Linked DNA regions of Homo sapiens. The protein of the gene in region 2 purifies or fractionates together with the protein of the main gene of each other region. This does not show direct contact. Each region holds a gene or a part of one and is shown on either strand. Other genes may lie near its edges.

The links.
Region 1: the proteins of TMEM92 (region 2) and POMT2 purify together in Homo sapiens (affinity purification with mass spectrometry; 3 studies listed by BioGRID and IntAct, with this or other methods). This does not show direct contact.
Region 3: the proteins of TMEM92 (region 2) and CUEDC1 purify together in Homo sapiens (affinity purification with mass spectrometry; 3 studies listed by BioGRID and IntAct, with this or other methods). This does not show direct contact.
Region 4: the proteins of TMEM92 (region 2) and POMT1 purify together in Homo sapiens (affinity purification with mass spectrometry; 3 studies listed by BioGRID and IntAct, with this or other methods). This does not show direct contact.

Annotation. Positions count from the first base shown.
Region 1 is NC_000014.9:77,317,872-77,325,193, forward strand, and holds the start of POMT2 (protein O-mannosyl-transferase 2), read right to left. Parts: upstream 3,013-7,322; 5' UTR 2,811-3,012; coding exon 2,563-2,810; intron 1-2,562. Other genes in the region: GSTZ1 (maleylacetoacetate isomerase), read left to right, coding at 6,734-6,751, 6,999-7,050. UniProt on the Homo sapiens protein: Transfers mannosyl residues to the hydroxyl group of serine or threonine residues. Coexpression of both POMT1 and POMT2 is necessary for enzyme activity, expression of either POMT1 or POMT2 alone is insufficient.
Region 2 is NC_000017.11:50,269,470-50,277,465, forward strand, and holds the start of TMEM92 (transmembrane protein 92 precursor), read left to right. Parts: upstream 1-4,996; 5' UTR 4,997-5,032; coding exon 5,033-5,101; intron 5,102-7,996.
Region 3 is NC_000017.11:57,882,386-57,889,412, forward strand, and holds part of CUEDC1 (CUE domain-containing protein 1), read right to left. Parts: intron 3,495-7,027; 5' UTR 3,180-3,494; coding exon 2,844-3,179; exon of another isoform or gene 2,787-2,843; intron 1-2,786.
Region 4 is NC_000009.12:131,505,903-131,512,929, reverse strand, and holds part of POMT1 (protein O-mannosyl-transferase 1), read right to left. Parts: intron 6,817-7,027; coding exon 6,710-6,816; intron 6,528-6,709; coding exon 6,477-6,527; intron 5,580-6,476; coding exon of another isoform or gene 5,563-5,579; coding exon 5,416-5,562; intron 4,020-5,415; coding exon 3,908-4,019; intron 3,188-3,907; coding exon 3,122-3,187; intron 3,028-3,121; coding exon 2,934-3,027; coding exon of another isoform or gene 2,789-2,933; intron 2,671-2,788; coding exon 2,515-2,670; intron 1,594-2,514; coding exon 1,463-1,593; coding exon of another isoform or gene 1,458-1,462; intron 890-1,457; coding exon 794-889; intron 1-793. UniProt on the Homo sapiens protein: Transfers mannosyl residues to the hydroxyl group of serine or threonine residues. Coexpression of both POMT1 and POMT2 is necessary for enzyme activity, expression of either POMT1 or POMT2 alone is insufficient.

The DNA.
Region 1 (7,322 bases), on a different chromosome or scaffold from region 2:
GTTGGAATGGCCTGGTGCCAGAACATAAAGTTAATGATCATTTGGTTGGGTATAGTGCTTTTAAAGTCCCCCTACAGTGGCCCACATGTGTCAAGGTAGAAGACATAATGGGCCTCTGTCAATTTTCTAACAATTGGATATTAGAAGGCCTGCGTATTGGTAGGGGATAAATGGAGAAAAGGTGAAGTTATAGTTACTAGGGTAGGACACACTCATTATGTAGCAATGGAAGGAAAGAAACAATCCTGGCATCTGGGGAAGGAACACCACAGGACCCTGGAGATGTAAAGAGAAGGGAAACAATGTTCTCTTTGTCCCTATCCAGCACCAAAGCCTGGCAAACATTCACATGGTCCATCTAGGTCAAGCAGCAACTGTGGCTGGCAATCTGACCTGTGGCTGAGTTTGTCATCTCACTATGAAAACATAAAAACTTTATCTAGCAGGTCAGTATAAAAAAGAAAATAAAAAAAGAAAACAAAAACTCACATGGACACGGCCAGTCTTGAACTATTCCCACGTGCCTGATGACATCAACACCAACTCCCAAACGCAGACCTCCCTCATAGGTGTGCAAACACACAGATCAGCACCACCTTCTATCAATGCGGCTGATACAAATCACATGCTTCTCCTGAGATCCTAAGGGCCTTACTTAGGTTATGCCTTGTCTAGTGATTGAGGCTGCAACTGTTCAGTGACACTGCCCATGTGGTTTAAACCACTGTAATGGTAATCAAATTTGATGGTGATCCAAATAAAAATCTAACAAAAATCCTGGAGTGGCCTGCACTCCTCCAAGTAATATGTTAGTGTAAGGAAGAATGGGTCACAAAATATCTTTCCATTAATCATGGTAGTTAATTTTTTTTTTTTTTTTTTGAGACAGAGTCTGGCTTTGTCGCCTAGGCTGGAATGCAATGGTGCGATCTTAGCTCACTGCAACCTCTGCTTCCCAGGTTCAAGTGATTCTCCCACCTCAGCCTCCCGAGTAGCTGGGATTACAGGCACCCGCCATCATGCCCGGCTAAGTCTTGTATTTTCAGTTGAGACGGAGTTTCACCATGTTGGCCAGGTTGGTCTCGAACTCCTGACCTCAGGTGATCTGCCCGCCTCGGCCTCCCAAACTGCCGGGATTACAGGTGTGAGCCACTGCGCCCAGCCTGGTAATTACTTTCTTAAAAAAATTTTTACAAGGGTAGTGGGCTATTGTAATTACTGGTAATGACACCAAAGATCAGAGATCAATCTGAACCCCTGTGCACAGGTCACAGTGGTTAATAGACTGGTCTTAGACTGCAGCCCAGATGTCTGAAATAAGATTCCTCGGTGCCCCCAGGACTTATTCACAAGTGGCTGAATCCAGGACCCTGGAGGGCATGGTTGAGGTAAATACTGTAAGCTGGCCTTATTCTGCTGCTTAGAGTCCCATTGACAACAACCTTAATTAAATGCTGTAAGGGACAAACTGAAAAGATGTGAGTAGCCAGGGGAGTTGTATATTCATGTGAAAATCTGCTAGAAGCCAAGACCATAGAATCGAGGAGTGAGAGAGGCTGTCAGATTGCTCGTGCCTCTACACATCATTCTGGGTATACCAAGAATGCAAGGCCCTGACTGCATCTCACCTGGGCCATTTCTCATGGTTGTGTTTGCAGCAAGCAACTTTGAGAGAAGAGGCAGTGTCTCCCTCCAGGACAAAGAGGAGGTCTGCGTACTGCCTTCTATAAAACAGCAGATTTTCCAAGCTTGTCGTTCCTTCACTTGGATGCAACCCACTGCCTGTGCAGTCATCCATTTAAACCCATAGCGTCACCCTGTGGGACTTGGATGGCAAGGGAAACTGCTTCTAACATGCATCCTATTTCCTGTAATAAAGTCCTTTGTCTCTAACCCAGGAGTCTCATCTTCTGCCAGCAGTCACGACACAATAACAAGCTAATTTATTAATTTCTAAATAAAGCAACCCTGACAGTCTGTTTTCTTGCCTGCTTTTTGCTTAAAGAATTCCATTTCTGACACCCAGTATCTGGATAGTACAAGCTAAAACCTTTAAGAAAATAAATCTCTTCTCACAAGAAGAGTTCTGCCTCATAAAATCCTTTGGTCACCATACCTGAACACCCAAACTGTCCTTGCCCTATAGGATAAAGGTACACAGTTAGGTATTTTCTCCTCTGTTGATGCCTGAAAATCCTGCAGACATAGGAACTCAGGCCTTAGAAAATTCTGTACCCAAAAATTTGCAATTCTCTTTGGAAAGTTGAAAGCACCTTTAAAAGCCACAATTTGCAAGCCAGGTGATGCACTGTAGCATAACCTGGAAGACATGAGGGCTGCTTCCTCAGATACTAAGAATCCCACTGCCCCACCACCAGAGCAAAACGATCCCCCTCCCAGAGAATGCACCTCGCCAGAGGCCAACCCACCCGATACCTCAAGTTCCCCTCCACCGTGGCCCTCCTCCTATAGATCCCGCCCCCTCCGTACCCTCGGGCCAATCAGAGGGCGGCGTCCCGTCGCGGTTGCCATGGTGCCCGCCGAGTCCCTCCCATCACTCACCAGATGTGCGGCGGCTCGTCCAAGCGGTGGAAGCGGGTGGCGAAGGACAGCAGCGTCACCAAGGCCAGCAGGGCCCACCAGCCGACCGCCTCGAAGCGCCGTGAGCCCCAAGCAGGCCGTTTGGGGCTTCGCGCCACAGCCTCAGCGGCCACGTCCCGGCCTGCGGCCCTAGCAGCCTGGGGGCCACAGCGGCCCCTCCGGGGACGCAGCTCGGACTCTGCCAGGCCTCCGCCCGTGGCCGGCGGCATCTTCCCCCTCCTCTGGGTCGCCCTCCGGCCCGGAGGCACACTTTGTCTGACCAGCCGCCCCGCCAAGGAGTCACAAGAGGGCAGCTCGGGGTACCCCGGGAAATGCAACGCCCTTCACTGCAGCGGAGCGCGGGGCCCCGGGCTCGGGGCGGGGCGGGCAGCGTGGTCGCGGCCCGGGCCGCTAGGAGGCGGCAGGAGGCGCAGAGCATGTCGGGACCGGGAGGGCCGGCCGGCCCGGGGCGGGGGGGACTGGGCAGGAGGGGTCGGGCTCAGGGAACTGCAACTCCCAGCAGCCCCCAGGTACGGGGCGTGGCGGGAGAGCTGGGCGAGCCAGAGGCGACCGGAAGGATCTTTCTAGTCCAGCCCCTCGCTTTACCCGGACGAAAGACACGGGCCTGATTCGTCGAGTCTCACTGAGCCTTAGTCGTCGGCAGGTCCCAGGCGCGAAGTTTCTCGGCCTGGAGGAGGGGGTCGCGCGAAGTGCCAGATGCAGGCGGGGAAGGTCTGTGACGCGCACCCGGGTGGAGGGAAGCTGGTTAGACACCTGGAGACCCTGGGGGGCGGGGTCAGAAGTGAGCTGCACCGCCCGCCCAGGCCGACAACGACTCCCGGCATGCAGTGCTTTGCGCCGGGCACGCTCTGCGCCTGCGTGCTGCGCGCTGCCCGCTGGGGCTCGAAGTTCCGGGAGGGTTGGGCCAGAGGAGGCGGTCCTGGTAGGGAGTGCGTAGCAGGGTGGAGTCGCTGTCCGGTCGCGCTTCACTTCTGCTCCGCCCTCCCTGCTCCCCATAACAGACCCCTCCCTCCACTAAGGCTTCCAAACGTCGCCCCAAGCCTCCCAATTTCTCGCAGCCCTTCATGCTCTTCTCTTGGCCCTAGCAGGAGGTGACCTTCCAGTAATGTTTGTATTTTAAGAGTCCCCGGGCCGGGCGCGGTGGCTCACGCCTGTAATCCCAGCACTTTGGGAGGCCGAGGCGGGCGGATCACAAGGTCAGGAGATAGAGACCATCCTGGCTAACACGATGAAACCCTGTCTCTATTAAAATACAAAAAAATTAGCCAGGCGTGGTAGCGGGCGCCTGTAGTCCCAGCTACTCGGGAGGCTGAGGCAGGAGAATAGCGTGAACCCAGGAGGCGGAGCTTGCAGTGAGCCGAGATCGCGCCACTGCACTCCAGCCTGGGCGAAAGAGCGGGACTCCGGCTCAAAAAAAAAAAAAAAAGGCCCCGAGCGAGGAGAGGCAGTCATGACAATCACCTGGGGAGCTTCACGGCTTTCACATGTTCTTCCCGGGGCCTGCTCCAGAGCCACTCTGTTCATCTCTGGTGGAACGGGCTCGAGAATCTGCATGTTTTTATAAGCGGTCTAGATGGTTCTTAACGTGCCATGAAGTTTGAGAACCACTTTTGTGGCACTAAGGAAGGTGGCACGTTAGATGGGACTTTGCGTCACGTTAATAATGTATAGTCCTCCCTCTTCCAAATGGGATTTTAGGAGTCTTTTTCTCAAATCATGTGTAAGACATGGTTTAAAAATAAAATCTGCTAAAGTAATCAGAATGCATATTTGAATTGGAAACACAGGTCTTCTAGGAGTGCTGATGAGATGGATACTTGGGCTTAAAGTTTAGTTCTACAAGTGCAGAAAGGAACGGGGCATGGTTTACATAGTTATCACTGGTAAGAGAAGGCAGAAATTGCCTAAGAGATTTCAGGTTTCCTGCTTGTGGGTCGTGACGGAGGGCAGCAGCATTTACCATGCTTCTGGTCACTCGTAGTACAGATCCAAAGGTGTAATCCAAAGGCATTTAGCCATTAGGTAAGGCATTTCTTCAGGGATTCTAAGCTAATTAATGTCTGCCACACTCTAGTGGTCACCAGCAGTCCCTGTCCCTTGGCACCAGGAGTCCCTGTAGCCTGGCTAGGTAAGGAAAGGGAGTTGCATCTCCAAATAAGGAAGATCCAGTTGTGGCCACCCAATTCCTCCTCTTCGAAAGACACTTTCTGCCCATCACCTGCTTTCTGTGCCAGGACCATCTTTACTTTCTCCACAAAAGGTACCTTCAGGACAGGCTGGGACTGCTGGGCTTGGGAACCATCTTGGAAGGGCCTAGGTTCCCACTTACACCCTTGCCATCTAGCAGACTGAGTTGGTAGTACAGGGATGGCAATAGCAAGTTCAGAGAGCAGCTTAATATGCTAGGGGTGGCAGAGGGGAGAGGGAGCTTTGGTGAAATGTCTATAGTCAGAGGGGTAGTAAACAGGGCATCTGAGAAGTTCTTTCAAGTTCTCCCCTATCCATAGGGATACACATGTTTTGGTGGGAAGATTCATGAGTGCTAATCACTGGCGAGTCTTTCCTGGGTTCCACTTTGAAATGCTGGCTCCCGAAGAAGTACCAGAGAAATTAACTTTGAGCCCCTTAAACCTTGGAGTAGAGATCGCACACCCAGCTGCCCCCAAGGGCCCAAAGGTAACAAAAATGAGAAAAGTGGGCCAGATATGGGCCATGGCAGACCTGAGAGCGCATACGCTGGTTGATGGGGGCCATTAGTCTGTTCCCATCAATTGCTGCTATTTAGGAACCCAAATCTGTCTCCAGATTTTTTTAAAGAAAAAAAACAAACAGGTGTTGTATATAAAATATCATGATTTTTATTTTTATTTTATTTTATTATTTATTTATTTTGAGATGGAGTCTTGCTCTGTCCCCCAGGCTGGAGGGCAGTGACACGATCTTGGCTCACTGTATCCTCCGCCTCCTGGGTTCAAGCAATTCTCATACCTCAGCCTCCCAAGTAGGTGTGATTACAGATGCACACCACCACACCTGGCTAATTTTTGTTTAGCCATGTTGTTTCGCCATGTTGGCCAGGCTGGTCTCGAACTCCTGACCTCAGGTGATCTGCTGGCCTCAGCCTCCCAAAGTGCTGGGATTACAGGCATGACCCACCATACTAGAATGAAATGTCCTGATTTTTAAACATTGGCAACTACTTGAAACATTTTAAACTACTGTGTTGAGCAAACAGAAATTCTGAGGGCCAGATAGGGCCCCAGTGAGCTGCCAGCTTTTGACCTCACCTTTGGGGTGAGTGAGCATATCTGCCAGCTGTTTTTATGGGGACAGCCGAGAGCCCGGAGGACTGCTGGGAGGTGGGGTTGAAGGAGATATGTACCAAAGCGTCAAAAAATTAGAATTCCTTGTCTTGCTGCATTGCTAGAGGATGCCCTGCCATCATTTTAGGGCAACCTTTGTTTTACAAATGAGGGAGCCGAAGATTTAAAAAGGCAGAGGTTTGTCCAAGGTCATGCAGAGCTGGTTCCTGCACCAGGTCCAGACTCCAGATGCCAGCTCCCAGCCCGCTCCACCACTCAAAATACTGCATCAAAACCAGGCCACGCTCTGTTGGGGGGACACCAAACCTGGCCCCAGCAGGAGCGTAAGAAACTTCCTGCGAGTTGGAAAAAAATGCCTTTTTTTTTTTTTTTTTTTTGAGACGCAGTCTCGCTCTGGAGTGCAGTGGTGCGATCTCGGCCCACTGTGACCTCCACCTCTCAGGTTCAAGCTATTCTCTTACCTCAACCTCCTGAGTAGCTGAGATTACAGGCACCCACTACCACACCTGGCTGATTTTTTTTTGTATTTTCAGTAGAGACAGGGTTTCACCATGTTGGCCAGGCTGGTCTCAAACTCCTCACCTCAAATGATCCACCCACCTTGGCTCCCGAAGTGCTGGGATTACAGGCGTGAGCCACTGTGCCTGGCCAGAAATGCCCTTTCTGACCAGAGTCAAAGTTCCCCCAATGCCTGGGTAGCCCAGCTTCCCCATTGGCTCCTGAAATCCACCCCTTTAGGTTTCCTTTCCCTGCTCAGAAGCTGTGCCAGAGGGGACATTTCCTGGGAGGCTGAGGGTCACCACGATACCATGACAGAGTCTGGCAAGGTATGGAAGGCACTCTCAGGCTAGCTGCCCCTTTGGGGGCCTCTTGGACCTCAGGAGCTCAAACCAGCATAATTTTGGAGCCAAGGGACCTCATGAGCCTCTCAGAGAGCTTGGAGTCTGCCCTGATTTGCACAGATGCAGGCCTGAGAGAGGAGGCCTGGCAGGACAGGAAGAAATGGTTGACTCCTCCCAAGCTGGAGCCCACCCAGCATGGGTTAACACGCGCCTTCATCCTCTCTCTCCTCAGCCCATCCTCTATTCCTATTTCCGAAGCTCCTGCTCATGGAGAGTTCGAATTGGTAAGAGATGTGCCTCCTCCAGGATGAGTGCTGGAGTGGGGTGGACTGGGGCGGATAAGCCCGGGTGCAAAGCTGGCCTGGGATGGAAGGGTTGCTCTGTCAGAGAGGACCTCACCCCCAGCAACCAGCATCCCCCGGCTCCTAGAACCCCCATCCCTGCATGGCATCTCCACCCCGGAAACACAGGGTGAGGGTGGGAGGAAGGGGGTTGTTTTTTCCCTTGGGACTGACACTTCTCCCAACACTGCTCTCCAAAGCCCCTTGGCAACCAT
Region 2 (7,996 bases):
GCAGCAGGGAGCCTCCGATTAGGGAACAAGAGAGCGACATGCCCAACATGGCCTGTCCCTCCTTGGCAATGAGGTGACCAAGCTAGAGGCCTTGTTGAATATGGCTACGAGAGTCCTGAGGAGCCAGGCTGCACGGGGTGCCGATGGCAGTGGGGATAAAGGGAGAGGACACCTGTGACAGGCACAGCCTCCAGTCTCCATGAGCTCTCAGCCCATGTGGAGAGGCGGGCCTCCTCTGTGAAGTAGACCCAGGCAGCGCTCAGTGGGCTGTGCGGGAGTAGAAAGGGGGAACAAACTGGGAGTGGAGGGAATCACATCTCCAGTCCCAGACCACGTTCAGGAGTGGTCGGCACCTGGACGGACATCCTCTGGGATCTGTCACCAGCCCCACCTTCTCAGGCCTGACTGGCCTTAAGTGGGGCCCAGTGGACAGCAGAGGGGTTTAGTGAGCAAAGCTTCCTGGGGAAACTGGGGTTGGATGCTGCAGCCCATCCAGGGAGGTGAGCAGTCCAAAAGCAGCGAGACCCTGCACTCCTTGGCACCCCACTCTGCCTCCATGTGAAATGCAGAGAAGGAAGTATGGGCCCCTTGTCTCTGCCAGGAATGACAGCTAGCATTTATTTGCCATTACTGTATGCCAGACTCTGAGCGGCCTGTTTCATCCTCATCATGGCCTATATGATGAGGGAGGTACTGTTATCCAACTCCTCCCTCTCCTTCCTGTTGAGAGAGGCCCAGAGAAGTTCCATTTCTCGTCTAAGGTCACACAGCACAACATATTCAGTGGCACACTGACTAACACGACACAATACTGCCCCTACAGGCAGAGCCGGGCTAGAGCAGAGCATTCTGCTGGCTTTGAAAAGAGATCCCAGCCTAGTGCCATCAGCCATTACAGATATTAGTGTCCACCAAAGTATGGGGGTGGGGGGGACTGCCAAGTAAAACAGAATTCACCCTGGCTCTTCCCCTTCACCCAAGCCTGGCCCCCTGGGCTGGGCTGAGCCAGGCTAGGCGAGGCCACCCACCCTGAGTGATCCTCCATCCAGAGCAGTGGAGCAGGGCTCCCCAGGCCCGAGGTGAGTGCCACCTGTGCTGGGTGTGGCGTCTTGAGCGCTGCATGGTTCTGATCCTGACTCAGCCCCTCATGTCCTGTGCGACCTGGCCTTCCCGCTCTCCAGGCCCTGGTTGCCTCCTCTGAGAAGGGCGTAAGTGGGCCGGCTGGCCTCGGAGGCCCCTCCTTCCAGCTGGGCCCCGGCAGGATGCACAATCAGCTCATTCTTTAGTGAATGCACTGGGGGCCCAGCGAGCGTTTATGAAGACATTTCGAAGTGGCTGCTCTTGGGAAACCCCAGATGGAATTTGGTGTTGAATCTAGGGGGCCGCTGACTACATGAGGCCTCTGGGTTTCTGTGCTCGTGTATGCCTGAGCACCTGCACACGCTGCCCTCCTGGTGCTAGGTGACGTGCCAAACAGAAGATGCTGGCCTTGTCCAGGACCCTCCTTCCTCTAGAACAGCCCTTCTCTGCTCAGTCTAGGGGGGTCCATGGTGCTCCCACCCCCTTCTGACCTCACCCACCAAAAATCCGAGGGCCCTGGGGCCATGATGAATGCTAACAGGCCCTGGTGTTCTTGGCCTGGCCTGGGACCACCCACTTCCAGGCTCCTCATCTTGTCCCCATCTGCAGGAAGGAACGTAGGGCAGTTTGGTGTCATGGAACTGGGGGCCCAGCCGAGGGGCTCAAGAGCCCTTCAGACTCTGCCTGGTGAGTCAAGTGCTAAGGACCTCACTTCTTCATTGGAAGATGTGGGGTGGGGGTGGAGTTTGTTCCTAGGACATTGTAGCGATGTGGATAGCATTGCCAGATTTTGTTTTGTTTTGTTTTTCTTTTTAGAGCGAGGGTGGTGCTCTGTCACCCAGGCTGGAGTGTAGTGGTGTGATCTCAGCTCACTGCAGCCTTGAACTCCTAGGCTCAAGTGATCCTCCTACCTCAACCTCCAGAGTAACTGGGACTACAGGTACATGCCACCACACCGGCTTAATTGCTTTTGTTTTCTTTGTTTGCAGAGACAGGGTCTTGCTATGTTGCCCAGGCTGGTCTCAAACTCCTGGGCTCAAGTGATCTTCCTACCTCGGCCTCTCCAAGTGCTGGGGTTATAAGCGTGAGCCACTGTGCCTGGCCTGGTTGCCAGTTTTAACAAAGAAAAACACAGAACATCCCATTAAATGTGAATTTCAGATAGAAAAGTAAATTTTAGCATAAGTATGTCTCAAATATTGCATGGGCCCAGGTGTAGTAGCTCACGCCTGTAATCCCAACACTTTGGGAGGCCAAGGTGGGCATATCACTTGAGGCCAGGAGTTGGAGACCAGCCTGGCCAACAAGGTAAAACCCTGTCTCTACTAAAAATACAAAAAATTAGCTGGACATAGTGGCACATGCCTGTAATCCCAGCTACTTGGGAGGCTGAAGCATGAGAATTGCTTGAATCTGGGAGGTGGAGGTTGCAGTGAGCTCACACCACTCCATTCCAGTCTTGGTTCTCAAAAAATATATATATATTGCATGGGACATAATTATACTAAAATGAAATTATTCATCGTTTATCTGAAATTTGGATTTACCTGGGCCTCCTGTCTTTTGTCCGGCAACCCTAGATCTGGGTCAGGTTGATGCCAGAGACCCAGAGAGCAGCTATGCCAGCCTCCTCCCCCTCCTCCTGCCCCTCTTCAGGGCACTGGTGCCCGCCTAGTTCCCTCACCCCCACTCCTGCTGACCCCCCACATCTGTCCCTTGAGTTCCCACATGCCCTTCTCAGCACCCTCATTTCACCCCGCAGGGTATCTTCCTCCTCTAAGCTCAACCATTTTCCCATTTTCCTCTCCCGTAAGGGCCACACCTCTGTAGGGCTCCCAGCCTGGGCAGGATAGCAGGGAGTGTGGGGTAGAGACCCCAGGCCTTGCTGTTGCAGTGGGGCCTGGGTGGGGACAAGAAGAACCCTGGCAGCCCAAGTTGGCAACGACTCAAGAGGTGGAGGCTCCAGCACTCTCAGGACGAGGTCCCCCTGCCAAGGTCCACCTGCAGGGGAGGAGGGGAGACGGCGGCCCCTTCCCTTCTCCAAGCTCACAGTCACTTCAAATACAGAGGGGCCAGATCCCAATACCCCTCGGATCAGGAGACTAGAAGATTATCTTCTTAAGGGGCAAAAAGGGCTAGGAGGTAATGGGAAATAGAGACAGGGAAAGGGAGAGAGAGAGCAGGGAGACAGCATAAGAAACAGACCGAGAGACTGGGGGTGCAGGACCAAACCAGGGACAAGGAGAAGGGACCAGAGAAACCGAGAAAAACAGACGCCTCCGCCGAGGCAGACAGAGGTGAACAGAGAGAGGAGAAACAGACGGGAGAACAGAGGGAAAGGCTGGGAACTCGAGAGAAACTGGGTGCGGACAGATGGGAAGAAACCGAAACAGAAAAACAGAGGCTGGGAGAAACGGGGAGAGACACAGAGGGGTTAAATATAAGACAGAGAACATGACTGGGAGAGATGAGGGAGAAGGGTGAGAGGCAGAGAGCAAGGAAAGAGAAGAAACGCCCACGACGTCGGGGGTGTTTTTCAGGGGTCAAGACAGATTGGCGACACAGCAGGAGGCGCCCAAGGACATGACGTTGAGCCTCTCAGGGTCCCCCTTGGCCGGGCCAGGGAGCAGCGCCCCACGCTCCATCACCCCCTCTCCCCCTCCCGCGGTCCTGGCTGCACTGCTCCTGCCTCGCCCTCGCCCAGCGCCCCCAGCCCACAAGCCCCGGCCGCGCCCCTCCCGGCTCCCGGGGGCACCCGCGCTGGGCGACGCTGCCACCTGCCGGCCGCTCCCGGAAGCTCCGCGCCTGGAGTGCTGGAGGCGGCGGCCGCAGGGGGCTCAGAATCAGGCCCCTCCGCACTGGGGCGGCCTCCGCGGGGTCTTTCCAGGAATCTGGATGGGCCTGCTCGCCCGCGCCCCGGCGGGCCTGGCAGAGGACCAGCCCCAGCTGCGGACCCCGGGGCAGTCTAAACCCTGGGGCCTTGAGTTCCCGTTTTGTCAATGGGAGAAAATGCACCAACACCTCCTGTAGGATTTCAAGAGGGGAGGGGACACGAAGGTACCCACGTTGTGCTCCTGGTCTTCCTTCCTCGACCTGGAAATCTCAGGGCACTCTGAAATCAGCCAGGCTGCTCTGTCCCTCCCTTTTTGGTCAAAACACAATGGGGTGATATCCCCCAACCATAACCCCTCAAAATCTACCCTAGAACCTTCGCCTTCCCCTCCCTCAACCTCTGCCCCCATTTGACTTCTCACCAGACCCAGAGGTCCAGATAAGAAGGGGCTTCCACGTCCCCTTCCCACTCCCGCCGGTCCCGGCACCCCTCCCTGGAGTCTGGGGCACTTAGGAGTGGAGGAGTTGGGAGTTAGGAAGGCCCAGCTCAGCGGTGTGGAGTTGATCCCACCTCTTTTTAAATTTAGGTTATTTATTTATTTATTTATTTATTTAGAGATGGAGTCTCACTCCGTCGCCCAGGCTGGAGTGCACTGGCACGATCTCGGCTCACTGCAACCTCTGCTTCCCGGGTTCAAGCGATTCTCCTGCCTCAGGCTCCTGAGTAGTTGGGATTACAGGCACCCGCCACCACGCCCGGCTAAATTTTGTATTTCTAGTGGAGACGGGGGGTCTCACCATGTAGGCCAAGCTGGTCTCGAACTCCTGACCTGAAGTGATCCTCCCAAAGTGCTGGTATTACAGGCGTGAGCCACCGCGCCCGGGACCGCTTTTTTAAAAATCCGTTAATCTCTTCTACCTCCCAAATCCCAAAACCCAACCCAGACCTCTGCGCCTCCCTTCCTCCCTTCCTCCTCCCAGCCCCTCCCTGCCCCGAGTCCGCCTCTCCCGGTGCAGCTCCGCCCCCATCCCGAGGCGGGGCCCCATAGGTGGAGAGAAGTGGGAGAGGTCGCAGCCCCGCCTTCTCTACACAGGAAAGCTCAGTGGCCCCCAAGCCAGGATGTCCCAAGCTTGGGTCCCCGGCCTCGCGCCCACCTTGCTGTTCAGCCTGCTGGCTGGCCCCCAAAAGGTGAGACTGGGAGGTAAGGTTGTTGAACTTTTGGGCCCTACCCTTGTAGGTCAGGAGCCTGCTTCTGGAGCCTGGTCGCCACCTTCCAGAATCAGGATTTCCTCCTGACCACACACAGTTAGCTACTTCCTTTCTCTCTTTGCTGTGGAGGTGGAGGTGGGGGCAGCGGAGGAGGCTCTGGGAGAGGCTGGGTTCTCCCACCTCTGAGGGGGATCCTGTGGTGGGAAGTGGCCACCACCCACCACCTTATCTGACACCTAGCACGTCTCTGTGAATAGGGACTTTGGACCCCTTATTAGCCTCAGCTTATCCTTCCAGCTCCTTCCCGCCTGAGCTTTGGACACCTGGGCCAGCACTTAGCCCCAGCTCAGTTCCTCCAGTGCTGGGGGACCCTGGGATGTCCCCACCCTCTTTGGGACTGTGTCTCTGCTTGTTCCCTAGGGGAGAGAAGGCTCTTTTGTCCCCTTCTAGGGGTAAGTAATCCCAGCCTGTGGTGGGATTTGACCTGGCTGCCTGACCAAGGCTGGGGTGACCTCTGAAATCTGTGATTTTGAGAGGGAGGTGTAGGGTTCGAGTGTTCCCTCCGCCCTTCTGTTCCTCCCAAGTAAACTCTACAGGTGATGGGGGAAAGCTGTCCGGTCCTGGGATGGGTGTTTATCCTGGGAACAGAGACGGGTCTAGAACATGCATTTGTGTCTTATTTCCATTTAAGAACCGGAGGGAAGTCAGGGTCTTCCATAGTTAGGATTTTAGAACAGGGCACCTTCACACATCTGGGCTGAGCTTTCAGAGAGGCTCTGCCAAAACCCTTCCGTGGACCCGGGTTAGTGAGCAAGGTGTTCCTTCTAAATCACTGGGCGGTCAGTTTGTGTCAATGCTGGGCTGGGCATCCTCTGGTTTACCCCTCCCACCAACCCCAGGGGCGAGGTGCTGTTAATACCTTCAATTCTGGAGTTAAGTAAGCTGAGATTTACTTACTCCCAGCCCAAGACCACCCTGACGCTCCATAAAACTCAGCCTCTGAACCACCCCAGACAAGACTACCCCCTGGTTAAAATGTGGGGAGACAATCTGGGAGAAGAGCTCCTCCCCCTCCCAAACCGGAACTTGAGATTAATTTACTAAACCTGTTAATTATCCATTACTTATTAGCTGGGGTCCAGGAAAAGGACAAGGGCCAGAGTGGGGTCTGAGGGGGAAGGGGTGCTGTTGAGTGCCTGGATGGACCCCTCGATTTGTCTCCAAGTTCCCTCTCTGTATATATATATTTTTAATTTAAAGAATAGAGGCCAGGCGCAGTGGCTCACGCCTGTAATCCCAGCACTTTGAGAGGCCGAGGCAGGCAGATCGTGAGGTCAGGAGTTTCAGACCAGCCTGACCAACAACCCCATCTCTACTAACAATACAAAAATTAGCCAGGCATGGTGGCACGTGCCTGTAATCCCAGCTACTTGGGAGGCTGAGGCAGGAGTATCACTTGAACCTGGGAGGCGGAGGTTGCAGTGAGCCGAGATCGCACCACTGCACTCCAGCCTGGGCAACAGAGCTAGACTCCATCTCCAAAAAGAAAAAAAAAGAAAAAAGAAAAAAGAATAGAGACAGGGTCTCGCTATGTTGGCCAGGTTGGTCTTAAACTCCCGGCCTCAAGCAATCCACCCACCTCAGCCTCCCAAGGTATTTAGGATTACAGGGATGAGGCACCGCACCCAGCCTGTCTCCAATTCTATAGTCATTCCTGTGTGCTGTGTGATTTGGATTCACAGACTCACCCTTTCTGGGCCAACCTGCAGGGGTTCCTTCCTGTTCCTGTCCCCACAAGGGGACAAAGCCTGTGAGATGGTACTCAGCCTGGGACTGAGCGTGGAAAAGGGGAATTACCCCAACTCTTATTGGCTATCACTGGTATTCTTATCTTTACTGTTGTGATTTGCAATTGAAATATTTTATAAAGGTATAAAGATAAAGATAACGGTGGTTTTGCCAAAGCTGGCTTCCTATTTTTTAGCCTTGGTTGTTTGTCCCAGGAGGCTAGGGTGGGGTGAGAGATGCCCTTCCCCACCACCCATTTCCTATGTTCTGGCACCTACATCCCTCCCCCACAGTCTGGGAGCAGCCAGGATGAAATGAAACTAGGTAATTGATGAATGCACGTTCATTCATTCTGCAAATATTTTGACTACTGGGTTTTCAACAATGATGCAGCAAAAATCCCTGCCCTCGCGGAGTTTGCCTTTTACACAACTGAAGGACAATTAACAAGATAAAGTAAATATATAGTATGTTAGATGTTGACAAGAGGTGTGGAGAAAAGTTAAGCACACTAAGGGAAAAGGGTGGTTGTAATTTTGAATAAGGTAACTGGAGAGGGAGGAGCTGGAGCCAGCCTTGCAGCCACCTAGAAGAGTGTTCCAAGTCAGTGTGGCTTTGACACACAATTGCTATCAATGGAGGGAAATTCTGTAAGATGCCCTGGGTGCCCTGCAGACCTGGTACAGAAGAGGGGGAAGCTGATTTGGGAGGCGGGGTCCTGGCAGCTTTGCAGAGCATGGAATCCCTTAGGCAGGGATCTGAAGGATGAATGGAGGCTTGGACAGGTGTAAAACAGCCAGGTATGTTCAGGGAACTCCCAGCGGGTGTGTGTGAGAGGAAGAGAAAGAACTAGGGGAAGCGAAAGGGGAGGGAGTGCAGCTGCTCACTCGGGAGGTCTCTACCCCAGGGAGCCACCGAAGGGGGCTTCCAGCAAGATTCTTTGGTGATGAGATTTGCATTATAGGAAGAGTCCTCCTGCCCACAGTGTCTGCAGTGACTGAAGGTGGGATAAGGAAAGTCGCTAGTGCCCTGAGCCATGGGTGTCACGGTGGAAGCCAGGTTGGAAGGGTGGTCAGAAGGGATGAG
Region 3 (7,027 bases), 7.6 Mb from region 2:
AGTGCACACACAGCAAGGGCCTACCTAGGGGGTGGTGAAGCCTTGCAGAGGTCTATAGGACTGTGGGGGCCATGGACAAAGGAGAAAATACTACCCTACCTGCCAGACTGTCAGGGCAAATCAGACTGCAGAAAGGGTCAGAGCTTGCAGAGAGCTTTCCTTCCAGTTCACACTTAAAGCATATACAGTTGACTCTCAAATAACAAGAGTTTGAACTGCGTGGGTCCACTTATAGGTAGATTTTCTTCCACCTCCACCACCCCTGAGACAGCAAAACCAACCCCTCCTGTCCCTCCTCCTCAGCCTACTCAATGTGAGAAGATGAGGATGAAGCCCTTTACGATGATCTACTTCCACTTAATGAGTAGAAAATATATTTTGTCTTGCTTATGATTTTCTTAACATTTTCTTGTCTCTAGCTTACTTTATTGTAGGAATACAGTATATGATACATACAACACACAAAATATATGTTAGTCGACTGTTTATGTTAAGGCTTGAGTTAAGGCTTGAGGTCAACGATAGGCTATTAGCAGTCAATTTCTGGGAAAATCAAAAGTTATATTAAAAAGTGGATTTTTGACTGCAAGGGGAGGATTCACTGCCCCTAACCCCTGCATTGTTCAATGGTCAACTGTATCTGCAGACACACACATACATACGCATACTCTCACTCTCTCTCTCTCCTTCTTTCTACAAAGAGGATCCATATTTTCCAATATTCCTTCCACCACCTACTCCAAGCAGATCAAAGGAGTGGTCTCCCAAGGAGAGAGACAATAGAAAACTGTACAAAGACAGCAGCAACACGTACTCATTCAACAAACACTCCCTGAGTGCTTGCTATGTGCGTGGATTGTCCTGGGTGCTGCAGATGACACAGGGATGAGCCAGATGTCTTGGCCAACAGAGCTTTTCCACCTCTAGGGGAAGTCTCAGCAGCACCCACTAAGGAGGAAAAGCAAGGAGACTTTGCCCTGCAGGATGGCTGATGAACAAGGGTAATAATAATGCCACAGCACAAAGTTTGTGAGGATTAGAAGAGATGACACATCGGGCCAGGTGCAGTGGCTCATGCCTGTAATCCCAATACTTTGGGAGGCCGAGGCGGGCAGATCACCTGAGGTCAGGAGTTCGAGACCAGCCTGGCCAACATGGTGAAACCCCATCTCTACTAAAACTACAAAATTAGCCGGTCATGATGGCACATGCATGTAGTCCCAGCTACTCGAGAGGCTGAGGCAGGAGAATCGCTTGAACCTGGGAGGTGGAGGTTGCAGTGAACCAAGATCGCGCCATTGCACTCCAGCCTGGGCGACAGAGCAAGACTCTGTCTCAAAAAAACAAAAAAACAAACAAAAAAAGAAGATATGATACATCTAAAGCACTTAGGATGATGCCTGGCACGGGTCGGGACTCAATAAAGAGTGGAGTTAAATCCTGCTGGGTCCTGGTCTTGTCCATGGCTGCATGTCCCAGATGGCCCTGTGGACAACACCCCTCTGATTAACAGGCTCTGTGTGCCTCATCCTTCTGCACCAAGCACCTCAGGCTCTGCTGATACTGGGTGGCCAGATGTCCACTGAACTCGGGTGGGACTGGAAAGGACTCACAACCTCCAGCAGGTGGGTACTGATGCAGTACGCAGGTCCCCTCTCTCCAGCCACTTCCCTGGAGAGACTGCTTGGCTATGGCTCACTACTGTTTCCATCAGGCCACAGTCAGAGGGATTTAACTGGCAAGTCTGATTCCTCACTCCCTTTCCGTGGCTATGCTCCCAGGATACAGCCGCACTCTTTTTCTTTTCTTTTTTTTTTTTTTTTTTTTTTTGAGACGGAGCCTTGTTCTGTCACCCAGGCTGGAGTGCAGTGGCATGATCTCGGCTCACTGCAACCTCTGCCTCCCGGGTTCAGGCGATTCTCCTGCCTCAGCCTCCCGAGTAGCTGGGACTACAGGTGCGCACCACCACGCCTGGCTAATTTTTGTATTTTTAGTAGAGATGGGGTTTCACCATATTGGCCAGGCTGGTCTCGAACTCCTGAACTCATGATCCACCTGCCTCGGCCTCCCAAAGTGCTGGGATTACAGGCATGAGCCACCTCGCCCGGCCCCAGCCGCACTCTTTTTCTCAGCGTCAGGGCTTTGTCAACCTCATTGATCTCCTCTCACTCTAGGACCCTGACAGATGGTCCTGCTGCCAGTTCCCTAGCCAGTGAGGCACTATTTCACCTCCCAGACTCTGCACAAGCTGTTCCCTTTGCCTGCACACCCTTCCCCCGGCTTCACTCTTCCTTTGGGTCTCAGCTTAGGGTTTCGGCTTAGCCATCGCTTCCTCTGGGAAGTCACTCCTTTCTGCTGCTTCCACGTCTCCATCGAGCACTTACCACTCTGGCCGTCAGTACCCGACTCGCGCTTCTAGTCCACACTGGACTGTGAGCTCCAGGAGGGCAGAAATTTGGTCTGACTTGGCCACTAGCGGACTCTACGCCTGATGTGGAGTTCAGTATGTTGGGGTGGGGCCCAGGCACCTGCATTTTTAACAAGCACCTTGATTCTGATGCCTCCTGACTCAGGGTCTAGTGCCACGTCTCGCACACCACTGAGTGGGCGCTCAGTGTTTGTTGAATGACTGCATGATTTCTGCCCATAAAATAAGGTGACTGACGGATGGTACTTTTCCCTAGGGGAAGTAAGGCTGCTTGCTAATTAGAACCCAGATAGCGGAGTAACCCAGGTCCTCTTAGAGGTTCCAGTGGTGGTTGGAATTACCCGGGCCGTGCCCCTACCTCCGGGGGGATGCTGTCCTCCAGTGGTGGTTGGAATTACCCGGGCTGCGCCCCTACCTCCGGGGGGATGCTGTCCTCCGAGTCGGAGCTGTCCTCATAGACGCCGCCGCTGCTGCCACCGCCCTCCAGGTTCATCTGCAGCAGCTGGTCGATGGTGGCGTCCACAGCGCCGCTGTTGGCGCGCAGCACGCATTCGATGATGTCGTAATCCATGTTGGGGAACATGGTCTTGAAGTCGTCCATGGCCTGGTTGAACTCCAGGCGGCGCACCTGGCGGGCAGGCCGGCTGTTGTTGAGCTCCTGGGGGGCGGCCGTGCCTCCCCCGCCCCCGCGTGCCCCGGCGGTGCCACCCCCGCCGCTGCCGCTGCTGCTCCGGCGGAACAGGCTGGTCATTTTGCGGAGCCGCTTGGGGAAAATGTTTCTAGCCGGCCGCAAAGCCCCTTCCCCAGGGTCTTTCCGCCGTCAGCCGCTTACTTGCCCTGCGGTCTCGGGCAGCTCACTCCTGCGCCTCCTCCTCCCCGGGTAGCCAGGCAGCAATGGGCTGCCAAGAGCTCCGGGTTAGGAGAGTACGGGCGCGGGGCCCCAGGCAGCCCTTGGAGAGCGGTCCTCGCGGGGCGGTGGCATGCGGGACCGGGCCGTGCTGGGGCTGGGCGGCCGGTCATCCACACCCCCGGTGCATCCTGGCACCGGTTTCACGGATGGTCCCACCTGAAACCGAAAGAGATGGAGTCAGGGCCGAGGCTAACAAAACATGAGCTCAGGGTGGCGGCCAAGGGCTACTAAGAAATGAGGGCAGGGAACCGCGACCCCTACCACGGGCAAGGGAGGCTTGCTTCTTCCTCATGCTTTCTCCCCGGCTTCAGTAATGAAATCCCCACAGTTCTTTACTAGCACAGGACAGCCACCAGTTAGCAAGGGATTCCTCCGACCCAGGTGCCATCCTAAGTGCTCTATGTGGGCCAACTCATGACAATACTGTAAGGTATGTGCTAGTATGCCCATGTTGCAGATGGGAAAAGTGAGGTATAGACGCTGAGTTAGTGGAGGAGCCAGGATTTGAATCTGGGACATATGGCCCTCAAGTCACTGGTCTCTACCATTACACATACTGCCAAAGACCCCTGAAGACCTGAGTGAGGCAGGAGGGGCTCTTTAAAGATGTCCTGCCTCTCTGATCTCTAGTCCCTGTTCTCATCTTCCCACATCACTGCCCCAACATCGTGGTCCCACCACCAGGGCAGGAATCTTGTGCAGAGCTCCATCGAACCCCGGGGACAGCAGTGATGAGAAGCGGGACCCTCCAGTGTCACCGGGAGCTTCCAGCCTGAGAGAGGAAACAGGGTTTCATCCTTGCAGAGCCTCGGGCTAATAGGGGAGGCCCAGTTCCCACTCTTGGAAAACTCATGTCAGGCCCTAAAACTCAGTCCATTCCCCTGAGAAGCACCAGCCCAAAAGAGAGATGCAAGGCCATTGTCAACCCCTGGAGTTCATTTTCCTTACCCCAATGTCAGGCCGACATGTTTTATTTATATCACAGACACGTTTGTTCTTATGGAACACTCAGTGTCCTTACATATTTTTAAAAATTCTAGAAGTTTTTTCTCAAAGTTGTCTTGAGAAACCATATACATCATAAATTCTGGTTGTTTTTTTTTTTTTTTTTTTGAGACGGAGTCTCGCTCTGTCACCCAGGCTGGAGTGCAGCGGCACGATCTCGGTTCACTGCAAACTCCGCTTCCCGGGTTCACACCATTCTCCTGCCTCAGCCTCCCGAGTAGCTGGGACTACAGGCGCCCGCCACCACACCCGGCTAATTTTTTTTTGTATTTTTAGTAGAGACAGGGTTTCACCATGTTAGCCAGGATGGTCTCGATCTCCTGACCTCGTGATCTGCCCGCCTCGGCCTCCCAAAGTGCTGGGATTACAGGCGTGAGCCACCGTGCCCGGCCATAAATTCTGTTCTTATCCCCACCAAGCCCAGTTCTCCTGCCCCAGCCAATGTGTGTCCCTCAGCCCCCAGGGTCAGCACAGTGTCCTGACAACATGTATAGGTGGAACTGAAAATCAAGCACAATGAGGGACCTTAATCTGCCACAGAAAACCACCCGGCCCACTCAAACCCAGGCATGTAAATCACTGCCAAGGTTGCATTTCTGTTAGCACAGACCACTGGGAATGGAATGCGCCTAAACACCAACTTCTGACAGTGGCAGCTTTATTTTAAGGGACAATTCCATCAAATAATATCCTTGAGTTTGATGAAACAGGTGCAAACTTGTTTTCACTTTTCTAGGACTTGGAGTCACAATCTTAACAGCTGATACAGAAATTTTTTTTTTTTTTTCGGTCTCACTTTGTCGCCCAGGCTGGAGTACAGTGCTGTGATCTTGGTTCACTGCAACCTCTGCCTCCCAGGTTCAAGCAGTTCTCCTGCCTCAGCCTCTCGAGTAGCTGGGACTACAGGTACACGCCACCACGCCTGGCTTTTTTTTTTTTTTTTTTTTTGTATTTTTAATACAGATGGGGTTTTGCCATGTTGGTCAGGCTGTTCTCAAACTCCTGACGTCAGGTGATCTGCCCACCTTGGTCTCCCAAAGTGCTGGGATTACAGGCATGAGCTTCAATGCTTGGCCAAGATGTTTTTGTGAGTACATCAACCCCTGAGAAAATCTGTTCACACTTTAGTGTGTCTACATCTCGATTTTTTCTTTTCTTTTTCTTTTTCTCTTTTTTTTTTTTTTTTTTTTTTGAGACAGAGTCTGGCTGTAGCCCAGGCCGGAGTGCAGTGGCGTGATCTTGGCTCACCGCAACCTCCACCTTCCAGGTTCAAGCAAGTCTCCCATCTCAGCCTCCTGAGTAGCTGGGACTACAGGCACGTGCCACCACGCTTGGTGCTAATTTTTGTATTTTTAATGGAAATGGGGTTTTACCATGTTGGCCAGGCTGGTCTCAACCTCCTGGCCTCAAGTGATCCACCTGCCTCAGCCTCCCAAAGTGCTGGGATTACAGGCGTGAGCCACTGCGCCCGGCATTATTTTTTCTTTGCATATACCACCATAAATGAATTTATTTTACTAAAATGTAATCAAACCATAAATCCTATGCAACTAGTTTTTTCCACATAATAAGATATTGTGGCCATCTTCCCATGTCAGAATACGTAGGGCTACGCCATCATTTTTAGTGCCTGAGTAGCATTCTGTTGACTGAGTGAAGCATGATTTATAATCCAACTCCCTCTACCCCATCTCTTCCCAGATGAGCAAGTCAGAGCCCAGAGACGCCCAAGCCATTTCACAAGAAGACACAGAGGGGTGACTTCAAATGATCAGTCCAAGAGTTTTGCTGTGAGAAGGAACATAGGAAGGTAGCCAAGTATGACATGGCTTCCCATAGCCGGCTTTAGACACCCCAACACCCCTACACCCACATCTCCACGAACCCACACACATCAGAAGAGTATGCAGCTTCGCCTGGGCTCCACCCTGACAGCTGCCTTTGTCCTGGGCTCTGGGGACCTGCCCTCAAGCCTCTAACACAGACCTCAGGGCCAGGAGGCCCCAGAAGCTGATGCCTTGGGCTACTGTCTGCTGTCCTAGTGTCATCACACACAGGGGTCAGTGACTTGTGTTAAGGCCTTCTGGAGTAAAGCCATCATCTCTCTGCCCCTCCAGTAATTTACTAACAGAGATGGAGGGACCCAGGTCTCACTCTGCCAAAGGCAATCCCTCGGAGAAAGATGACCTGGGCCACCCCCAGGGGAGGAAGAAAGAAGATGGCAAGACCGACATTTTCCCCATTAGCAGCCCTCTGGACAGCTCCCTCGGGTTCTGGGCCTCTCTGAGTGTTGAGAAGCTCCAGAAGCCTTGCACTCTTGCCACTTATAGGGAACACGCACCAGTTCAGACAAGGCCTCCGCACTCCCCAGCTGTGGGACCTCAGACAAGTCTCCCATCCTCTCCGTGGCCCTAAGCCCTCATCTGGATGTATCCCTTAGGGGGTTTCAATGGGAATGAAATAAGATAATCCTCAGCACACTGCCTAGAACGTGGCTATGCTGCATTTGAGTTATCATTGCCCCAGGAGGCTGGTAAAGAGCCAGGAGCAGTGGGTAAATTGGCCAAGCTGCCCTCACAGGGGGGATGGGGTAGGGAGATTCTAGGGGGGTCTTCCCCAGCACCTGGATGTCAATCCCTGGAATTCTTTCAGCCCTCTGTAAGGAAATATTGATCCTCATGGCC
Region 4 (7,027 bases), on a different chromosome or scaffold from region 2:
AATGAAAGTGTATGAGGGGGCCGGGCGTGGTGGCTCACACCTGCAATCCCAGCACTTTGGGAGGCTGAGCTGGGTGGACCACTTGATGTCAGGAGTTCAAGACCAGCCTGGCCAACATGGTGAAACCCCGTCTCTACTAAAAATACAAAAATTACCAGGATGTGGTGGTGGGCGCCTGTAATCTTATCTACTCGGGAGGCTGAGGCAGGAGAATCACTTGAACCCGGGAAGCGGAGGTTGCAGTGAGCCGAGATCGTACCACTGCACTCCAGCCTGGGCAACAGGGTGGGACTCTGTCCCCCGAAAAAATAAGAAGAAAAAAAAGAAAAAGCCCACTCGGGCTGCAGGTGCTGGAGCTGGGCAGGCAGCAATGGGAGGACACCATCAGGAGACAGTGACCGGGACAGCTAGAGACCTTGTTTGGGGGCAGAATCCACAGGACTGGATATGGGAATGAGAGCAAGGGGCACCTCTAGCTGGGATGTGTGCAAGATGATGCTACTTTTGCAGGAGGGGGGTTCTTGTTTTTATGAGGAAGGGAGAGGGACACAGGTCGGGGCATTGAGGCTCGCCTGGAAACTTCTCAGAGCAGCTACTGAGCAGGCTGCTCACTGAGGGTCTCATGATCTATTCCTCTGACCTTGGACTCAGCACTGAGCTGGTGTTCAAGGCCATGACGGTGACTAGAGTCAGTGAGGGAGGGAAAGAAGGGGGCCCAGGACTGCATCCCAGGGTCTCGCCTGGCCAGGCCAGGAGGTGAGCTCTGCTCTGGAGTCACAGGACCTGCACTCACCTCCTGGGATCCTTTACAATCCACCAGTTATTGACATCTTTGAAGGGGTAACAGGTCACCTGTTGCTGGTGGGAGCTGCCTCGGCCGTTCTCATATCTGTGTGAAGTCAACAAAGAGATGTATCTGGGCCAGGCGCGGTGGCTCAGGCCTGTAATCAGAGCACTTTGGGAGGCTGAGGTAGGATAACTGCTTGAGCCCAGGAGTTTGAGACCAGCCTGGGCAACATAGTGAGACCCTGTGTCTATTTATGAGAAAAAGAAAAGAAAGGGAAAGAAACGTATCTGGAAGTGGGTCATCGATCGGGCCCACACGCCTTTCTCCTAAAGTTTCTGCAAAGGGAAGCAGATTTCAACAAATACAACCTAGCAAGGGGTTTCAGGGAAAATGAAGATACCACAGACAAGGAGCCGAAATCAGATGATTCAGGCAGGCAGTGCTGAGGTCAGCCACAGCCACAGAGCTGGGGCCGACCCTGGGCCCTGCCACACGCCAAGTCCCTCCAGCAACACCCGGGAACCACGAAGCTCACTGGCAATCAGCACCCGGGCTGCTCAACTTCTTTCTGTCCTGCAAACAAACTTCCTCAAAGAAAGGGAAAGTTGCTAAGATAAGCAAATCTACGAGCAAATAAAGCATTTAATTATCTTCAAAGTAAAACCATCACCTTACATCATGGGGTAGGTGTCCTGGTGGGAATGAAGCCAGCAGGGCACAGGTTTCCCAAAGACGTTCCTCAGAGTGACCTGGGACCCAAAGGCCACCTCCAGTGGCTGACCCTGAGTGATCCGAGCTAGTCCTCCCTGAGACAGAAGCAGAAGGTTGATGAGTGAGAGACAGAAAGAAAAATGACCCTAAGCCAGCCTTCCCGATGGCCACTCCTCCCTCTGGGGTGATGTTTAGGCTGGTGGCCATTCTTGTAACAGTGGTAATGATCTCCCATTTAATCACATCACGTTACATTATAGAACCATAATGAGCACTAAGTCTGATCAAATGCTGCCTCTGGGCCAGGCACTCAGTTCAGCCTTCCACGCGCACCCTATTCAGTCCTTACAAGCATCCAATGAGGTAAGAGCAATGATGATGTCTGTCTAAGAGATGAGAAAACCAAGACTAGGGTGAGCCAAACAACTTGCTGAAACACACAGCACTACAGCACTGGCCGTCGGCAGGCTTGGCTGACTTCAGGAACCACAGTCCTGACCACCTCTACTGATACCTTCTACCACTGCTGCGAGGTTCATAGGAATGAAGGTCACAGTTGAGTGTGGTCCTTAAGGCGGGTGAAACTGCCCAGGGTTTGTAAGACTTGACTTTAAAATGCTCCCAGCTGCCAGGCGCGGTGGCTCACGCCTATAATCCCAGCACTTTGAGAGGCCGAGGCAGGCGGATCACTTGAGGTCAGGAGTTCCAGACCAGACTGACCAACATGGTGAAACCCCATCTCTACCAACAAAACAAAAAAATTAGCTGGGTGTGGTTGCAGGTGCTTGTAATACCAGCTACTTGGGAGGCTGAGGTAGGAGAATCGCTTGAAGCCAGGAGGCGGAGTTTGGGTGACAGAGTAAGACTCCATCCCCCCCACCAAAAAAAGAAATATGGATGTGGATTCTTCATGTTTTGATTCAAGTGCTAATGTTCACTTGATGTGTTTGTAAGAAAACTCTGGGTCCACTATCATCTTCCTTCTCCAGTGGCCACGATGCCCACTGCTTACTTACCTCTAAGCTGGCCTGGAAGGCACTGGACATGATTTGGTCGTGGGGCCCAGAGCGGAAGACTAGAATCAAGTGGACGTAGAAGAACAGTAAGTACAGGACGACCGGGATGACCAGCAAAGCCACTGCTCGGGCGAGCAAGTGACAGAACACACAGACCTGCCAGAGATTCAAAGAAAAGTCATGTTCCACTGCGTGGAAAAGCGTACCCACCTCTAGACATTGTGAGCTTAGAAAAAGTTAGTGACAGAAACTCTGGCCTCCCATACAGAGGCACCTGCAGAGGCCAAGAGGCGAGGCTGCCCAGGCCTGCCTGCTTCTAAAACATTGAGGATTGGAGTCTTTTCACCAAGTACCCCCTGTGACATCTGCATCTGCCCCATACAGGCCGGCCTCATGCAGCACTGGACATCAGCACCTACATTGGACAAAGTCTGGTCTCCAAGCAGGTGCCAGGCATGGACAGCTGCAACACCCAGCACGAGCACGTACGTGAACACACCCATGTACTTGATGCTGCAAAGACATGACAGAAATGGAGTTAACATGAGACAGGAAAACATAAGGAGATGGAGGAGGACACTGCCCAAGACCAGAGGCTCAAACTCACCCCACTGCACAGGAACAAGCGACCCCTGTCAGTGTTAGCCAGAACCACCAGCTCAGAGAAAAAGGGCTGGAATAAAAACAAAGCAGATGGAGACAGAAATAGTTCAGACACATTTCCAAAAGGCTAGTGAAGCTCCACATTCTTCAGAGAAATCTTTCTGGGTCGGCTGGCCATGCTGAGCCACAGGGGCAGTAAGAAAGAATTCCCATCTCCCAAAGTATCCATCCCAGCAGAATTTTTCTTTTTGCCCAGAAAATGTTGTCCTGTTAGTTTAAATTATAGAAAAATGAAGATGTATTTATGAAGTCACAAGCCAAGGGCCAACCCCCAAAATATTAGAGGACCAAAAGATATCTAGCACTAGGCGCAGAGGCTCACACCTGTAATCCCCACACTTTGGGAGGCCAAGACGGGTAGATCACCTGAGGTCAGGAGTTTGAGACCAGCCTGGCCAATATGGTGAAACCCCGTCTCCACTAAAAATACTAAAATTAGCCAGACATGGTGCTGTGTGCCTGTAATCTCAGCTACTCGGGAGACTGAGGCTGGAGAATTGCTTGAACCTGGGAAGCGGAGGTTGCAGTGAGCCGAGATTGCGCCATTACACTCCAGCCTGGGTGACAGGGACTCCGTCTCAAAAAAAAAGATATTTAGCAAGCAACTCCTCAAAATGAAAAGGTACTGTCTCACAAAACGAAACAAAAAAAGGTACTGGACCATCTCAGATCAACAAACCACCCAGAATCTCTGTTCTCGTTAACTAGGAAGACACTCCATTTTCCATACCTGTGCTTTTGGCAGTTGAAGAACTTCAGGTAGGACAACACGGCCAATAGATTGAAAAATATTAACACTGATTCCAAAAGCATTAGCCTTGACTGAGTGATGAGAGCATTCTCTGTTTCAAAGAGGAAACACATGTCAATTTTAAGGTAGCAAGGGAAAACGTATGAGGATGAAAAACACTCATGAAAAAAGGCATTACTTCAGAAGCGATACAACTGTGTGGGGCTGTTGTGAATGTTAAAACATTCTATAGACACAAGGCCTCATACAGTCATCACCCAATACACATCTCTTTTGATTTTCTACTGTCTCTTTCTTTTCTTTGAGTCAGGGTCTTGCTCTGTCGCCCAGGCTGGAGTGCAGTGGCACCATCATGGCTCACTGCAGCTTTGACCACCAGGGCTCAAGGGATCCTCCTGCCTCAGGCTCCTGAGTAGCTGGGACTATAGGCGCATGCCACCACACCTGGCTAATTTTATTTATTTATTTTTTTGAGACAGAGTCTTGTTCTGTCACCAGGCTGGAGTGCAGTGGTACAATCTCGGCTCACTGCAACCTCCGCCTCCCGGGTTCAAGCGATTCTCCTGCCTCAGCCTCCTGAGTAGCTGGGACAAAAGGTGGGTGCCACCATGCCCAGCTAATTTTTGTATTTTTAGTAGAGATGGGGTTTCACCATGTTGGCCCGGATGGTCTCGATCTCTTGACCTTGTGATCCACCCGCCTCAGCCTCCCAAAGTGCTGGGATTACAGGTGTGAGCCACCGTGCCCGGCTTATTTATTTTTTTTGAGATGGAGTCTTGCTCTGTTGCCCAGGCTGGAGTGCAGTGGCGCAGTCTTGGCTCACTGCCACCTCCACCTCCCAGGTTCAAGCAATTCTCCTGCCTCAGCCTCCCAAGTAGCTGGGATTACAGGCACCTGCCACCACACCCAGCTAATTTTTTGTATTTTTCGTTATTTTTAGACAGGGTTTCACCATGTTGGCCAGGCTGGTCTCAAACTCCTGACCTCGTGATCTGCCCGCCTCAGCCTTCCAAAGTGCTGGGATTATAGGTGTGAGCCACTGCGCCCAGCCTAATCTAACTTTTCATCTGCTTTAATTTCATCTGTTCATAAACGTGAGCTGGAAGACCCTCTCTGAAGAGGATCCACTGACTCACGAGTCCATCTCAATTGGCCAAGGCCTGGGAGGTGGTGGAACAAGGGGAAGTTATCATTTGGTCACAAGATTGGTTGGAGATGGAGGTGCCCACGTGTGCATGGACTTTGCAGCAGCATCTGGGCAGTTTTCTACTGCCATACCCCGACTGCTGATAAGAGTCTGATCCCACAATTCAGCAATCCCATAACCACGGGGTCAGCCTGGGAGCGGGTGACTTGCAGCGTCAAATTTGGATGAACCAGATGCACTTTCTGGTGCAGCTCGCCCACCAAGCCCATGTGATCTTCCGGGCCAAAGGGTCAGTTCTTCCCTGCATGACAGCAAGAGCAGGCAGGGGCGCAGGTCTTACCGATAAGCATCAACAGAGCAGCTCCCATGGCGGCACAATGAGAAAAGTGGAGCTCCAACACTATCTGGTAGGCCATGGGGACCGACAAGGCCCCCGCGAGTGCTGGCAGCAGGCGCAGGGACCACACAGGCACGTTGCTACTGTATTCTGGAAAAGCAACCACACTGCAGAGCTGACTACACTGTGCACACACCATCTCTGTGTACTGCAGCTATGCTTTCACATAGCGCCGTCATGTTCACAGACTCTAAAATGCACGTTTACAAAACTGGGGACCCCATCAGCAGCAGAGTGCATAAACTATGGGTGAAGGCTTTGAAATTAGCTTTGCATAGTCATGGAACCCGATCTCATGAAGCATAGACAGGACTAAGGATTCTAAAATTTACCGCCTTACTTATACATATTTACCCTCCCTGTTTTCTTTTTTCTTTTTTTTTTTTTCTCTGAGACGGAGTCTTGCTCTGTCCCCCAGGCCGGAGTGCAGTGGCGCCATCTCATCTCACTGCAAGCTCCGCCTCCCGGGTTCACGCCCTTCTCCTGCCTCAGCCTCCCGAGTTGCTGGGACTACAGGCGCCCGCCACCACGCCCGGCTAATTTTTGTATTTTTAGTAGAGACGGGGTTTCACCATGTTAGCCATAATGGTCTCGATCTCCTGACCTCATGATCCACCCGTCTCAGCCTCCCAAAGTGCCAGGATTACAGGCGTGAGCCAGCGCGCCCGGCCTACCCTCCCTATTTTCAAAAACATTGTGGCAATGGACAAAATTCACATGTACAACCGATCATCACAATCAGACGCTCTGTGATACGTGTACCAACGACAAGGGCTGAAATAATGACTGCAACTGAACAGTAAGATTTTAACCAGACTTTCCAGAAGTCTTTCATTTGTATCCAACCAATTTATTATTTTCTGGACTCAGATTAATAAGGCACAGTTTCTGTGGGACTAGGTATGAAAGGAAAAAAAAAGCCACAGTTGTTAATCCTTACAAAAGTCACAATCTCTTCATTCTAACCTGCGCACATTAAAAGGGAAATGAAAATTATCTTTTACCTGCTCCAATTCTGTTCCACAAAAAATTGCCATCGAATCCTCCTAAATAACCTGAAACAGAAGATTAATCAGTAACTATCCCATTCAGCAAATATTTCTAGAGTACTGTGGCAAGCAATAAACAAGATGCATCAATAATAAGACCTGGTTTCTGCCTGTAAGAAATGCACTGATAAGTTTTAAATGTATTTGAGGTCCTGAAGGGTAGGGGCTACTCTCCTGATGACTCCTACCTCCCAAGGCCAGCACCATGTGGCCAAATGGCGGCCCACTGTCATCCAAGAAGAAGATTTGTTTCATGTAAAAAGAGATGTACTGCCCATAATATACTTCGTCAAAACTAGAAAAAAAAACAACAACCCATATTATATTCAATTAGAATCTTAACTGTAAACAAAAACTGTGAGGATAAATGTGTATGTGTTTCCAAATGACTTTGAGTGAGTGATCAGCAAAGGCTGGATCTTTTGCCCCAATTGTTTCCCATCCCCAAATATTAAGATGCATACAGCATCACCCACCCACAGAGACATGGGGAATTCACCAAGCAC